Homo sapiens: one gene and its partners. The protein of the gene in region 2 interacts with the protein of the main gene of each other region in a pairwise test. Each region holds a gene or a part of one and is shown on either strand. Other genes may lie near its edges.

What was found.
Region 1: the proteins of TOR1A (region 2) and SPATA12 interact in binary tests that used the Homo sapiens proteins (3 or more experiments, as listed by UniProt).
Region 3: the proteins of TOR1A (region 2) and ABHD17C interact in binary tests that used the Homo sapiens proteins (3 or more experiments, as listed by UniProt).
Region 4: the proteins of TOR1A (region 2) and ASIC4 interact in binary tests that used the Homo sapiens proteins (3 or more experiments, as listed by UniProt).

The regions. Positions count from the first base shown.
Region 1 is NC_000003.12:57,063,664-57,067,163, reverse strand, and holds part of SPATA12 (spermatogenesis-associated protein 12), read right to left. Parts: intron 1-3,500.
Region 2 is NC_000009.12:129,814,137-129,817,636, reverse strand, and holds part of TOR1A (torsin-1A precursor), read left to right. Parts: intron 1-3,414; coding exon 3,415-3,500. UniProt on the Homo sapiens protein: Protein with chaperone functions important for the control of protein folding, processing, stability and localization as well as for the reduction of misfolded protein aggregates.
Region 3 is NC_000015.10:80,750,810-80,754,309, reverse strand, and holds part of ABHD17C (alpha/beta hydrolase domain-containing protein 17C), read right to left. Parts: intron 160-3,500; coding exon 1-159. UniProt on the Homo sapiens protein: Hydrolyzes fatty acids from S-acylated cysteine residues in proteins. Has depalmitoylating activity towards NRAS and DLG4/PSD95.
Region 4 is NC_000002.12:219,520,982-219,524,481, reverse strand, and holds part of ASIC4 (acid-sensing ion channel 4), read right to left. Parts: intron 1-3,500. UniProt on the Homo sapiens protein: Does not exhibit measurable stand-alone pH-gated sodium channel activity but may form pH-gated heterotrimeric sodium channels. Its activity could also depend on alternative gating mechanisms.

The DNA.
Region 1 (3,500 bases), on a different chromosome or scaffold from region 2:
TGTTATTCTTTCTGGGTTGCCATATTTTGTGGTTTTTAAAAAATATATTTTTATTCATTTATCTGGTGACTTGAAATTTCATGCAAGTACAGGTCCTTACAGACAATTTCTATTGGAAAATCACTTATTTTGGGTGTGTATTAGGGTTTGGAGAGAAACAGAACCAACAGGATGTGTGTCAATCAATCGCTCATCTATCTATTGAGAGGTTGATTTTTAGGAATTGGCTCATGTGATTGTGGAGGCCAGGTGAGTCAAAAATCAGCAAGGTAGACTGGCAGGCCGGAGACCCAGGGAAGAGTTGCAGTGAGCCCAAAGGCTCTCTGGGTAGAATTCTTCCTGCTCTGGGAGGTCGGTCTTTTTCTATTAAGGCTTATAGCTGATTGGATAAAGCCCACCACATCATGGAGAATAATCTGCTTTACTCTAAGTCCACTGATTTAAATGTTAATCTCATCTAAAAAATACCTTCACAGAAATGTCTAGAATGTTTGACCAAATAGCTGGTTACCATGGTCTAGCCAAGTTGACACATAAAATTAATCATCACAGTGGGTAAAATACTGTTTGAGGTTGTTCAGAAGAAAGGAAAAAGGCAAAAGCCTGGGCGCGGTGGCTCACGCCAATAGTCCCAGCACTTTGGGAGGCCGAGGCGGATGGATCACTTGAGGTCAGGAGTTCAAGACCAGCCTAGCCAACATGGTGAAACCCCGTCTCTACTAAAAATACAAAAATTAAGCCAGGCATGGTGGCGGGTGCCTGCAATCCCAGCTACTTGGGAGGCTGAGGCAGGTGAATCGCTTGAACCTGGGAGGCGGAGGTTGCGGTGAGCCAAGATCATGCCACTGTACCTGGGTGACAGAGTCAGACTCTGTTTCAGAAAAAAAAAAAAAGAAAGAAAGGAAAAGTGTAATGGTTGGAAGTGGAAGTGTGCTGTTGGTACAGATAGGAGAACATTTCGGAAAGAATTCCCTCCCCTTTGATTGACTGCAAAATAAGTCCCTCCCTTGTTCTCTTGCAATTACAGGTGGACCAGATGGGTGGGCAGATTGGCAGTGGGGGTGCAGAGTTTCTTGTTCTGATTGAAAGGATTTTTTCTTACATTTTAGGGTTTTTTTTTTTTGTTTTGGAGACAGAGTCTCACTGTGTTGCCCTCCTGGCCTCAAGTGATCCTCCTGCCTCAGCCTCCTGAGTAGCTGGGATTACAGATGTGAATTACTGTGCCCAGCTCTTAGATTTCATTTTAAGACTGAAGACCTGAGAGTTCATGGGCCTAAGTAAAAGGTGCCATTTATCTGCAACAAATTGGTGCATGCTCCGTAGATCTAGCTGTAGGGGGCTGTGTGTGCTAATGCAGCATTTGTGACTCAGCCGTAATGAGGATGACCTTGCCTCTCCTGTTCCGCAGGCTACCACCTAGCTGTGGTGGGTCACTGGCCACAGAAACTGTAGGTATCTGGGGCTGCCTGGGTGGGAACTCAGCCTGTATGAGAACATGGTATTTGGAAGACATTAAACATTTATTATAGCTTTTATTTTTATTGAGGTATAATTAACATACCACAAAATTGACCCTTTTCAAGTACCCAGTCTGTTTTTTAGCACATGCATACGGTAGTGCAGATATCACCACTAGTTCCAGAATATTTATCATCCTAAAATACAGTTTTTCTTTTGCAAGTAATTTCTTTTTTTTTTGTTTTGTGATGGAGTCCTGCTCTGTTGCCCAGGCTGGAGTGCAGTGACATAATCTCAGCTTACTGCAACCTCTGCCTCCTGGGCTCAAGTGATTCTCCTGCCTCATCCTCCTTAGTAGCTGGGACTACAGGTGCACACCATCACACCCGGCTAATTTTGTATTTTTCGTAGAGATAGGGTTTCACCATGTTGGCCAGGCTGGTGTCGAACTCCTGACCTCAAGTTATCTGCCCGCCTCGGCCTCCCGAAGTGCTGGGATTACAGGCGTGAGGCGTGAGCCACTGCGCCCGGCCTTTTGCAAGTAATTTCAACATTTAAGACCATGGCCTACTGGATTGGTCCCATCAGCAAATAAACATGCAGTTATTTCTCCCAACTTAAAAACAGCAGAACCCTCTCTCCACCCTACTTCTCCCTACAGTTATACACCCATTTCTCTTCAGTTTAGAGCAAAACTTTTTGAAATAATTTTCTGGACTTACTAATTTTTTGCCTTCTATTGTGTCTCAAAAAATTGTGATAAAACACACATAACGTAAAATTTACTGTGTTGACTATTTTTAAGTTTTCAGGTCAGTAGTGTTGCGTATACTGATATTATTGTGCAACCAATCTGCAGAGCTTTTCATCTTGTGACACTGAAACACTGTATCCATTAAACAGCAACTCCCATTCCCCCCTGCCCCTAGTCCCTGGAGACCAGCATTCTACTTTCTGTCTCTGAATTTGACTGTTCTAGATACCTCATATAAGTGGAATCATGCCATATTTGTCCTTTTGTGACTGGCTTATTTCACTCAGCATAATGTGCTCAAGGTTCACCCATGTTGTAACATGTGTCAGAATTTCCTTCCTTTGGGCTGGGTATGGTGGCTCATGCCTGTAATCCCAGCACCGAGGAGGCGGATGTTGAGCCCAGGGGTTCAAAACCAGCCTTGGCAACATGGTGATACCCTGTCTACAAAAAATACAGCAATTTGCTGGGCGTGGTGGCATGCACCTGTAATCTCAGCTACTTGGGGGCTGAGATGGGAGGATCACTTGAGTCAGGGAAGTTGAGGCTGCAGTGAGCCGTGATCTTGCCGCTGCATCCCAGCCTGGATAACAGAGGGAAACCCTGTCTCCAAAAAAAGAAAAAAAAAGAAAGAAAAAAAAAAGAAAGAATTTCCTTCTTGGTTTTTGGTTTTCTGTTTTGTTTTTTGAGACGGGGCCTCACTCTGTCACTGATTGCTGCAGTGGCACAATCTCAGCTCACTGCAACCTCTACCCCCCAGGCTCAAGCAATCCTCTGACCTCAGCTTCCGGGTTAGCTGGGACTACAGGCATGCACCACTATGCCCAATTAATTTTTTTGTATTTTTGGTAGAGACAGGGTTTTGCCATGTTGCCCAGGCTGGTCTCGAGCCCCTGAGCTCAGGCAGTCCCCCTCCCTGGGCCTCCCAAAGTGCTGGGATTACAGGCGTGAGCCAGCACAGCTGGCATGGAATTTCCCTCCTTTTTAAGGCAGAATATTATTCAATTCTATGCATTTGCCACATTTTGTTCTACCATTCATCTGTCATGGACACTGAGTTGCTTCCACCTTTTGTCTATTGTGAATGATGCTGCTATCCCATTCTCTTTTGAGCCCCTCATTTCAGGCAGGCTTGGCTTCCACTCCCCTCTCCCCAGATATCTCTTACCAAGGTCTACAGTGAGTGCCTGGTTGCTCATCCCAATGGCCTGTTCTCTGTTGCCATCCTTCCTGACTACCAGCAGCGTGTGATGGAGTTGGTCACTTTCTCTTCCTCGAAGCCTTGTCT
Region 2 (3,500 bases):
AGCTCTGCCTCCCAGGTTCACACCATTCTCCTGCCTCAGCCTGCCGAGTAGCTGGGACTACAGGCACCTGCCACCACACTCGGCAAATTTTTTGTATTTTTAGTAGAAACGGGGTTTCACCATGTTAGCCAGGATGGTCTTATCTCCTGACCTCGTGATCCGCCTGCCTCGGCCTCCCAAAGTGCTGGGATTACAGGCGTGAGCCACCACGCCTGGCCAGTTCCCCCATTTTCTTCAGCTACATGATTTTCTTTGTAGAAGAAAGAGCCAGTGGTTGAGCAAGGAAGGATGCCGTGGGCAGCTCAGGGGGAGAGATGACCTGTTAGTTCCTCCCTTTCTCTGCATTGCCCAAGAGCAACAGCCAAATAGCGGTTCGGCCCTTATTTTGTACTGGGCACCGTGTGAAACAGCCTGCCTGCGGATTTCACTCAGTCTTCACCATACCTCGCAGGGTAGAGACTGAGACTCAGAGATGTGGCAGCTTGCCCAGGGCCATGCAGCCTGTTCGGTATCTCTGATTCTAAAACCTGAGCTTTTAAGTTTTAGCTCACTACTTCTCCAAATGTCATGAGACCTTTGACCTTGAACCTGGGGAGGTGGAAAGCCAGCCTGATGGAGGCTGACTCACTGGCTAAGACCTGTGAGTTGTGCAGGGCTGGCTGTTCAAGTCTTTGCGCTTCAGGTTCTGGAGATGACAAAACAGAAGGGCTCATTTGAAACAGACTTGCCAAGAAATTAATCCTACAGTTAGTGAACAGCATGGGGTACAGTATGTCAGTGTGTGCAAGTGGAATACTACTGAGGAAAGACAAGTATTTTGTAACATGTTGGATAGTTTCTTGCCTTGCCAAAAAACATGAGCACATGCAGTGGAAACTTTAGCCTAATGCTGAGGCAGATGAGCCCCGTGGCCTAGAATCCACGCTGTGGAGGTTACACGGTGCTTAGGAGTGCCAACCTGGGAGTCGGGCAGCCCTGGCCCACAGACTGACTGTGACCTCAGGCAGATGGCTGAACATTGATTCAGCACATGTATATGGAGCATCTGGTAAGTGCCAGGCATCATACCTAGGACGGGGGACACAGCAGTGAACAAACACAGAAATTCTTGCCCTTATCAATCCTACATCCTAGTGATAATAAAGAAAGAAAATGTATCAGATGATGGGGGATAGATATGTTGATGTGTGTGATGTGTTTGTGTGTATACATGCAGTACATATGCACACATCGCACATGTACACATGTGGACATATAGATATCTTTCCCCCCGGGGCCAGTAGGGGAAAAAAATCAAGAAAGGCTTTGGGGTTCAGGGTAAGGATGGGCTCTGCTTTAATAGAGTGGACAGGGAAGGCTCCCTGTGAGGGTGGCATTTGGGCTGACCCGGGGGAGTGAGCCATGTGGATGTCTGAGGGAAAAGCATTCCCCAGTGCGGACAGCACGTCCAGGGGCCCGAGGGGGGCCTGTGCTTGGGGTCCCTGTGACTGGTTGAGGATAAACAGAGGAGGGAAACGGGAGGTGATAGAAGAGGCGAGATTTGGGGTGGAGGTGCAGACCGTGGGAAGCCTGGCGGGCCATGGTGAACCTTGAGTCTTATTCCAAGTGGAAGAGAGAGGCCTGGAGGGTCCTGGGCAGGTGGTGCTGTGATCTGACGGGGCCTTCACAGGACCTTGCTGGCAACTGGATGGAGGACAGACCCACAGCCACAGGGGCAGGGAGCCCAGCGTGGAAGCGGTGGGGGTGGAGGGACACGGTTGGCTTCTGGGTGTGTTTTGAAGGTAGAACCTGTAAGACTTCCTGCAGAATTGTATATGGGAATGAGAGAAGAATCAAGGACCTGGCTTGAGCGATGGGAAGGGTGGCACTGCCATTGAAGGGAAGGGACAGCAGGAAGGACGGGCGAGCTCAGTGGGCAATGGCATCAGGGCATCAGAGCAGAGCCACGAAGCTCCAGGGAGGCCATCAGGCCAGGAGGGCAAACTTGGGAGTCCTCAGGAGATGACTGTGAAGTCTCAGGGCTGCCTGAGGTCACCTGTTCTGCCGTCACTCCTGGGTCTGCGTGGCTGGGTCCTTGTTGCTCGGGCTCTGCCCTGAGGTCCTGCCCAGCCTGCTCCACCTCCCGCTCTCCATGTCCGTTCTGCTGTGTGGCATTCGCCACTCCAAGCACCATCTGAGATTGTTTCCTGCCCTAGAGTGGTAAAGCCGTGAGGTCCGTCTGCCCTCAGCTGTGTCCCCAGGCCCAGGGCGTGCCTGGCACAGAGCAGGCCTCTGAGAACCAGCCTCCCACGTGAGTTCATGATAGCAAGACAGCCCCTCGTTCCCATTCAGTGGTTGGTTCTGTTCTTTCCCTGGCCATAGGCTCCACTCTGTCAGTCAGCCACACATTTATTGAGTACCAGTTGTGTGCAAAGCACTGTTGGGCATGAAAAGCATTAACCCAGTGAATGAGGAGGAGCTTGGGTTGGGGACGGAGCCCCAGAATTACATGGCAGACCAGAAGGGAATCAGCTCAGTAGAAGACACGCATGGGCTCGTGGGCGACGCAGTGTGTGCTGTGTCATCTGGGGCTGGGAGGAAGTGTCCTGGGTCAGGAGTTCCAGGAGCCCAGGAGGAGTGGACGGGTCAGTGCAGAGCCAGCCCGCATTCAGGGGAGAAAACACGGCCAAGGCCAGGCCTTCACGGGGAGCCCAGCGTGGGCTGCACATCTGCACTCTCCAGGCTAGTTTTGGTGCCCACATGCTCTGCAGGGTCTGGGCACTGTGGCAGCGGCAGCAGGCTTCCCTGTTGCTAGTCCAGCTGCTGAAACTCCAGGGAGAGTCAAAAAGTTCCCAAATACAGAGGCGTGGCTGGTAGTCCTTCCCGGGAATTCTTCTTGCTTCCCGCTTTCTGTGGAACTCTGCCTTCCCCACTCTGCCTCTCTGCTTGTTCCTGGGCCCCAGGACCTCTTTCCCATCTTCGATCTCTTAAGTCATACCTTGGGAGGCCTCCCCCAGCCCGCCGTGTAAAGAGGGCTGTCACAGCTTCTGCTGTCACAGAAGCATTACAATGTGCAGGTGCCTGTTAACATCTGCCTTCCCCACTGATCTGGAGCTCCACAAGGGAGAGGGCACACCCAGTAGGTATGTGTGGGATGGATAGGAGGGTGGATGACACCCAGTAGATGTGTATGGGATGGATAGGAGGGTGGATGACACCCAGTAGGTGTGTATGGGATGGATGGGAGGGTGGGTGACCCCTAGTAGATGTGGGGGGGGTGGGTGGGTGACCCCCAGTAGGTGTGTGTGGCATGGATAGGTGACCCCCAGTAGACGTTTGTGGGACGGATGGGAGGGTAGGTAAGTGACCCCCAGGAGGCGTCTATAGGGCAGGTGGGTGGATGTGGATGAACAGCACCTTGTTTCTTCTTCCCAGGTGGCTTCTGGCACAGCAGCTTAATTGACCGGAACCTCATTGATTATTTTGTTCCCTTCCTCCCCCTGGAATACAAACACCTAAAA
Region 3 (3,500 bases), on a different chromosome or scaffold from region 2:
AGCTCTATGTCATTATGCCCAGCCCCTTCAACCCAAAGGGGCTCCACGGCTCGGGGACAGCGCTCGTACATCGCTAGGCCATGGGAGAAATCGATGACCTCATCCTCTGTACCATGAATGACCAACACAGGAGAGGTGACTTTAGATATCTTGTCAATGCTGCAAAACAGAAAGGGGGGAGGCAGAAAGAGGACTCCATTAGTTATGCTCACAGATAATACACATCACATTTAATGATAAGTTAATAATCTCCACAGGCAGGGAAATAACACCGTGGGTTTTTTTTGTTTGTTTTGTTTTGTTTTTAAATTAAGGACTTTATCTTTTAAAGCAGTTTTAGGTTCACAGCATAACTGAGAGGAAGGTACAGAGATTTCCCAGATACCTCCTTGTCCCCACACATGCACAGTCTCCCCAATTATCAATATCCCCTACCACAGCAGTACCTTTGATGAACCTACATTAACATATCATAACAGTTTGGCTTTTTCTTGCTTTATTTTTTTCTGGTAATTTAGTTTTTTTTCTTAAATCAACTTTGCATTTTAGAATAATTTTGAATTTGCAGGAAAGGTGTAAAGATAATACAGTGTATACAAAAATCAGCCAGGCATGGTGGTGCATGCCTGTAATCTCAGCTACTCGGAAGACCGAGGCAGGAGAATTGCTTGAACTAGGAGTGGGAGGTTGCAGTGAGCTGAGATCGTGCCACTGCACTCCAGCCTGGGCAACAGAGTGAGACTCTGTCTCAAGAAAAAAAAGAAAAGAAAAGAAAACAAAACAAAAAGATAATACAGTGCCCTGACATACTCCTGACCCATTTCCTGTAAGGTTAACATTGTACATTACCGTGATACATCTGTCAAAACTAAAACACCAACGTTGGTGCATTACTATGAACTAAACTCCAGACTTTATTTGGATTTCACTAGTTTTTCCACTAATGTCCTTTTCCTGTTCCAGGATCCAAACAAGAATACCACACTGCAATTGGCTGTTGTGTTTGTTGAAGTATTTTATTAAAGACAGACCTCTTCAGAGCATCAGACTAGCAAACTAGCAACTACTATTTTTTATATATTATCTTTATATTACTTTTAGATTTTTTTATATTTATATATTATTTTTCAAGAGAATTTTAAAAAGGGCCAGAACTTAACATATCAAATGAATGTCTATTTGGAAAGCTGGACACTTAATTTGCTGCCACTCAAGTCTTCAGAATTCTGAAAGCTACCATCAGAATTGACTCAAAGATACACACCCCATTTCATAAAAGCAAGTGCCTTGTTTTAAAAAATAAAAACTGTACTATTTAGCTTGAAAACTTAATGTAATGCCTAGATTTTATTCCAAATGACTTCTCTGCAAAAATCAAATCTACTCTCAAAGGATGAATATTTGAGGATCTTTAAAACAATATGCTTCAGGCTCTGAAAGCATATCCAAAAGAGGAATCCAAAAGACTTTAAGCATTGGTTGAGCTGGGTGTGTAGGCGACTTCTCTGATCGGGATAACAGTCATTTCATCCACAAATAAATCAAGAGAAATGGCTCTCTCTCCATTCTGTCCTGCCAAAGAGCCTCTTGTAGTTTACTTCTCTTTCCATATTTGATCCTAGTCGAAGTTACAAAAGGATACCAATTAGTACTATTTGTGGGAATCTTTTTGTTAAAAGTAACAGCTAACATTTTTTAAACATTTACCATAGCCGGGTGCTTTGCACTTAACCCACAAAATCTCTTTTAATATTTAATGAAACACAGTGAGAGAGGAATGACCACCTCTGTTTTATCAAGGAGGAAACTGAAGCTCAGAGAGATTATTAAATAACAGGAATGAGGTCGTGGAGATAATAAAGAGCTCTAACATCAATTACACATTCCAAAGATCTACAAACAACTGTCATCTAGCCTTTATTAAAAACTCAGGAAGCCGCGGACCACTTCAAGACATCCCAGAAAGATTGCAAAACCTCATCAGCCATGTAATTTGCAAACATCAGAGCCACTGTGGCAGTATTCAATTATGCACTTTAGAAATCTTATTTGGAAACCTGCTTTCCCCCTATATTTAATTTTAAAGTGACTTCCTTTAAGAGAGTTCAATTATACACAATTAAAAAGATATTTACTCAACAGTTACAATGGGCCTGGGACTATGCTCCACGCTGCACAGTTTAGGAGAATCTCTACTGCCTGGAGGGTGTATTTAAAGTTGACTTCCATCATCCGATCCCAAGTGTAAAGGAGGTAAAAGAAAATAAACTATAAATGAAATAATAATCTGGATTCCTTTTCCTTTTGTTTAAATTTGTTTTAATATTAAAAGGAAATGTGCAAGTATCCTCCTTTAAGGAGAGGGACACAGATGATTCTGCCATCTGGCAACAACGGACATATTAAGAAAATGTTTACCAAATTCAAATTCATGATGAAAGTCAATGCAACCATTAATGGTTTGAAATCTATCATATTAATAATTTATGGCATTAAATATGAGGATTTGTCTCCTTTGTTGTCTCCAATCACCAGCCTTTTAAAAAATTTTTTTAAGAGACAGGGTCTTGCTCTGTTGCCCAAGCTGGAGTGCAATAGTGTAATCCTAGCTCACTGCCACCTCAAAGAGATAAAGCTGGGCTTAAGGAATCTTCCCACCCCAGCCTCCTGAGGAGCTGGGACTACAGATGTGTACCACTATGGCTGGCTAACTTGTTAATCTTTTTCTGTAGTGACAGGATCTTGCTGTGGTGTTGCCCAGGTTGGTCTTGTACTCCTGGCCTCAAGTGATACTCCAGCCTTGGCCTCAAAAAGTGCTGGCATTACAGGTGTAAGCCACTGTGCCTGTCCTCTAATTACCGACCTTAATTCAATAAATTACTTAACCTCTCATTTCCTCATCTGTAAAATGAGCACAGTAATTGAACAAACATCTTTTTTTTTTCCTTTGGAGACAGAATCTTGCTCTGTCACCTAGGCTGGAGTGAAGTGGTGCGATCTCGGCTCACTGCAACCTCCGCCTCCTGGGTTCAAGCAATTCTTATGCCTCAGCCTCCCCAGTAGCTGGGATTACAGGTGTGCACCACCACGCTCGTCTAATTATTTTTTTTTTTTGTATTTTTAGTAGAGACGGGGTTTCACCATGTTACCCAGGCTGGTTTTGAACTCCTGAATTCTGGCAATCCACCCTCCTTGGCCTCCCAAAGTACTGGGATTACAGGCGTGAGCAATCACGCCCAGCTGACAAACTTCATAAGACTCTTGTAAAGATGAAGGGGGACCATGAACATGAAATGCATAGCCCGATACCTGCCATACCAGATAAACTCAGATAAGATTAGTTGCTAATTTGTTGTTAATCATTTGCAATTTGTTGAGATGGCTGTATTTTAAGGTATATGCTAATTTAAGAGCCAGGAAAAAAAAAAAACTATTAGTTTTGTTGCCAGGGTAACTCCCCGCATTGCTTCCCACAAACATGCTAAGTATCCGTCTTTCAG
Region 4 (3,500 bases), on a different chromosome or scaffold from region 2:
CACAAAACTCCTATATGGCAGTAGTCCTATCGTTTTCATTTTACAGACAGGGTAACGGAGGTACAGAGAGGATAAGGAAGCTGACAGGGGACCAGGCAGTCTGGCCCTGGAGTCCACCCATAGCCACTGTGTGACATACACTTGGCACACAGTACCTACAAATAGTAGGCGCTCAAGAACTGGTGAATGTTCAAACAACACTTACTTTGTCCAACACTATTCATTGAGCCTGTGCTCAACAGTGTCAGGCACTGTGTGCTTGGTGCTGGACATGCAACAGAGAACAAAACAGACAGCCTCTGCCCTCAAGGAGCTTGCTGTCTGGCTGCAGAGACATTCATTCATTCAAAGTACTTATGGGCTAGGCACGGTGGCTCACACTTGTAATCCCGGCACTTTAGGAGGCCAAGGTAGGAGGATCGATTGAGCCCAAGAATTTGAGACCAATCTAGGCAACATAGCGAGACCTCGTCTCTACAAATAATAATAAATTAGCCAGGCATGGTGGCTCACACATGTAGTCCCAGCTACTCAGGAGGCTGAGGTGGGAGGATCTCTTGAGTCTGGGAGGTTGAGGCTGCAGGGAGCCACCGTGATGGCACCACTGCACTCCAGCCTGGGCAACAGAGCGTGACCCTGTCTCAAAAAAAAAAAAAAGTGCTTATGGGGCACTTACAACATAAACACTTTGAACTGCACCAGGCATGTTCACAAATCCACCAGTCACACAAATGGATAAATTGTTACTAGTTGTGATCCTTGTAGTGATGGGGTGACCTAGCCAAGGTCACCACGGTGGAACAGGAGCTCAATTTGGCTTGCAGGGTCAGGAAAAACTTCTCTAAACAAGCCACCTGGCTCACCCAGGAGGGGCATCAGACAATGCCACACTCAAGAAAGAGGAAGACACAGCGCCCTCAGCAGGCTTAGTTCTACACGTGCATACAGGGACCCCCCACCTCCACCGCCACCCATGAGCTTTTCAGGGCCACTTCCTCCCTACAGTGGATCTAGGAGGCAATGGCTGAGGTGTTTGTTCAAATGTAAATGTGTGAGCTGTGGTGGAAGGGACAGGGGAGCCCTAGGAGCCAGGGAGGGCTGGGGGCCGTGGAAGAAGGCTGTGGTCCCCGGCGGGCGCCGCGCTTCCACGGGAGAGGAGAACGGGAGGATGAAGGCCTCCGGGACCCAGGTAAACGGTCAAAACCATTCCCCAGGCAGCGACCGCTTAGGCCTTACACCCTAGAAAGTCAGTTTTTAATTGGTGAATTGGTAAGTAAGTCCTTCCCTGACATTCCCGCCCCTCGATGCAAAGTTCCTCGTCAAGAGTTTTGCTTATACAGTGGAGCACACTCCCACAGCCAGGCGGGAGTTCAGGAGACAAGACAGAAAGAGGCGGCGGGGACGGTGGGTGGGTGGGTGTGCGCCTGCCAGGATCCCTGGCCCCCCGCCCTCTCCCGCACACACAGCCTGGCCGCCCAGGCCTGGCCCACCCGCACCCAGAGGGCCGCACCCACCGGCTCGCGCGCCTCGCCGCCCTCCGCTCCCTCCCGCGGGCCAGGCATCCATCACGGCTCCCGAGCGCCCTCCCTCCCATCTCCTGCGGGCTCCTCCGCTCTCCTCCCTGGGTCTGCCTCATTTGCATTCCCCCGGCTCCCGGCTCCTCGGCAAAGTGACCTCCGCACACAGCAGCGCCAGAGGCTTCCACCGCGGAGGGAAACACCGCCGCCCGCCCCCGCGGCGGCCGGGGAGGGGGCGACGGGGGCGGGGGTCCCGAGGAGATGGATGCGGAGCTGGGCCTGGCTGGCGGGCCTGAAGCGGCCAAAAGGCCCGGGGCCGGGGGCACTGAGGGACTTGGGTGCTCGGGTGGGATTTGAACCCGCGACCTCAGATCCCCAGCCAGGCGGGAGTGAGACATGATCAGCACGAGGCCCGGGAGGCTGCGACCAGAAACGGAACCCCTACTGGGAACCTGGGGCTCCCCAACGTCCCGTTTCCTTCCCCCGTGAGCCCCCACTGGGGAGGGGCCGACCCCACCGGGCAGTCGCCCAGGGGTTCCCAGCCCTCCCCGGGGACCTGCCCAGCCCCCACCCCACCCTCCGGGCCCGCCGAGCCGCCTCCCCTCCCCCCGTTTGGTATTTACACCTTCCACACATTTGTAAGCTATTATCCTGTCCACGCTTAGTCACCGCTGAGCCAAGCGCCACGGATTTAGCTCCTTTAATCTTTCCTCCTAAATCAATCCTCCATTTCCCCTTAATCATCCCGTGGCTCCTCTCTGAACTCTTGCTGCCGCCTCGGCTGCTGCAGCCCGTGCCTATCTCTCTGGAACTGCTCCCCCTCCAACCCAACACCCACGGGTGTCCCAAGGGCATGGTGAGCATTTGAGGGGTGGGTTGGATTTCCAGCGCTGCCAGCCCCAGCCTAGGAGCCAGGGGAAGAAGTGCAGACCCCTGCCCACCTCTTCCTAGAAAACACACCACTGAACCTTCCCATCTCCACTCTCAGGATCTCTGCCCCTCTGTCCTCCTCCTGCCTTCCCATCCTCACTCATCCTTCTGAAGACCCTAAGTTTCCACCATGATTTGCAAAAAAATTAAAAAACAAACAAACGTGGCAGATCTTCTCCCCTCGGGCCTCCTGCCCCCAGTGCTGGCCGTTCCCACCTCCTCTTCCCAGCTGCTCAAAGGAGGTGGGCTGCAGGGCCAGCCTGGAAGGGCAAGGAATACTTATAACTCAGGAATACTTATAACTTATAACTCAGAGGCAGCCTGAGGCCGGCCTCTGTCCCCTCCTGCAGGGTGGCTGTCCATCTCTCCTGGACCACCTCAGGCTCCACCCCCTTCACTCCCTCCTGCCTGCCCATGGGACCCACTGACGACTCGGGGACTGAGTAGCTTGGGTCTTGGCATTCCAATGCTCCCTGTAGTGCTTCCTGGGTGCCCCTGCCTCTCCATTCCTGATCCTTCCTGCCCCCTGCCTGGACCTAGCAGAGGCAGCCCTGCCGCCAGCCACAAGAGGGAGCAGATTCCTCCCAAGAAGCAGAAGGGCAGGGGTGGGGGTCCAGGAAGGAGTGCGGGCAGGGGAGACAGAGGGAGGATCAGAGGGGGACAGGACGTGGGGCCATTTCTTCAAACGCTAATCAGCATCTTCCGGCAGTGTCTGAGAAGCTGAGCTGATAATGAGCCCAGCTCGGGGCTGATTCCTGATTAATGAAGAGGCCACGGGGCTGCTGAGTGGGGCTGGGTGGGGCATGTCCCTCATGGCCCTCCCACTGCCCTTGAAGACCAGCCCTCTGAGACAGTAACAGTCACTGCCCTTCCCTGCCAGGCCACACCACTTACATCCCCTCCACCCACTCCACTGCCCAAGCAGGCAGGCTGACAGCACCCCTCCAGGAGGGTCTGAGCCGCAGCTGGTGTGGGGTGGAAGGTGGGGAGGGTGGGTGCACCTGGTTCTGCAATCTGAGGGGTTGGCAGCCCTCAGTATTTTTTAAATCAGTT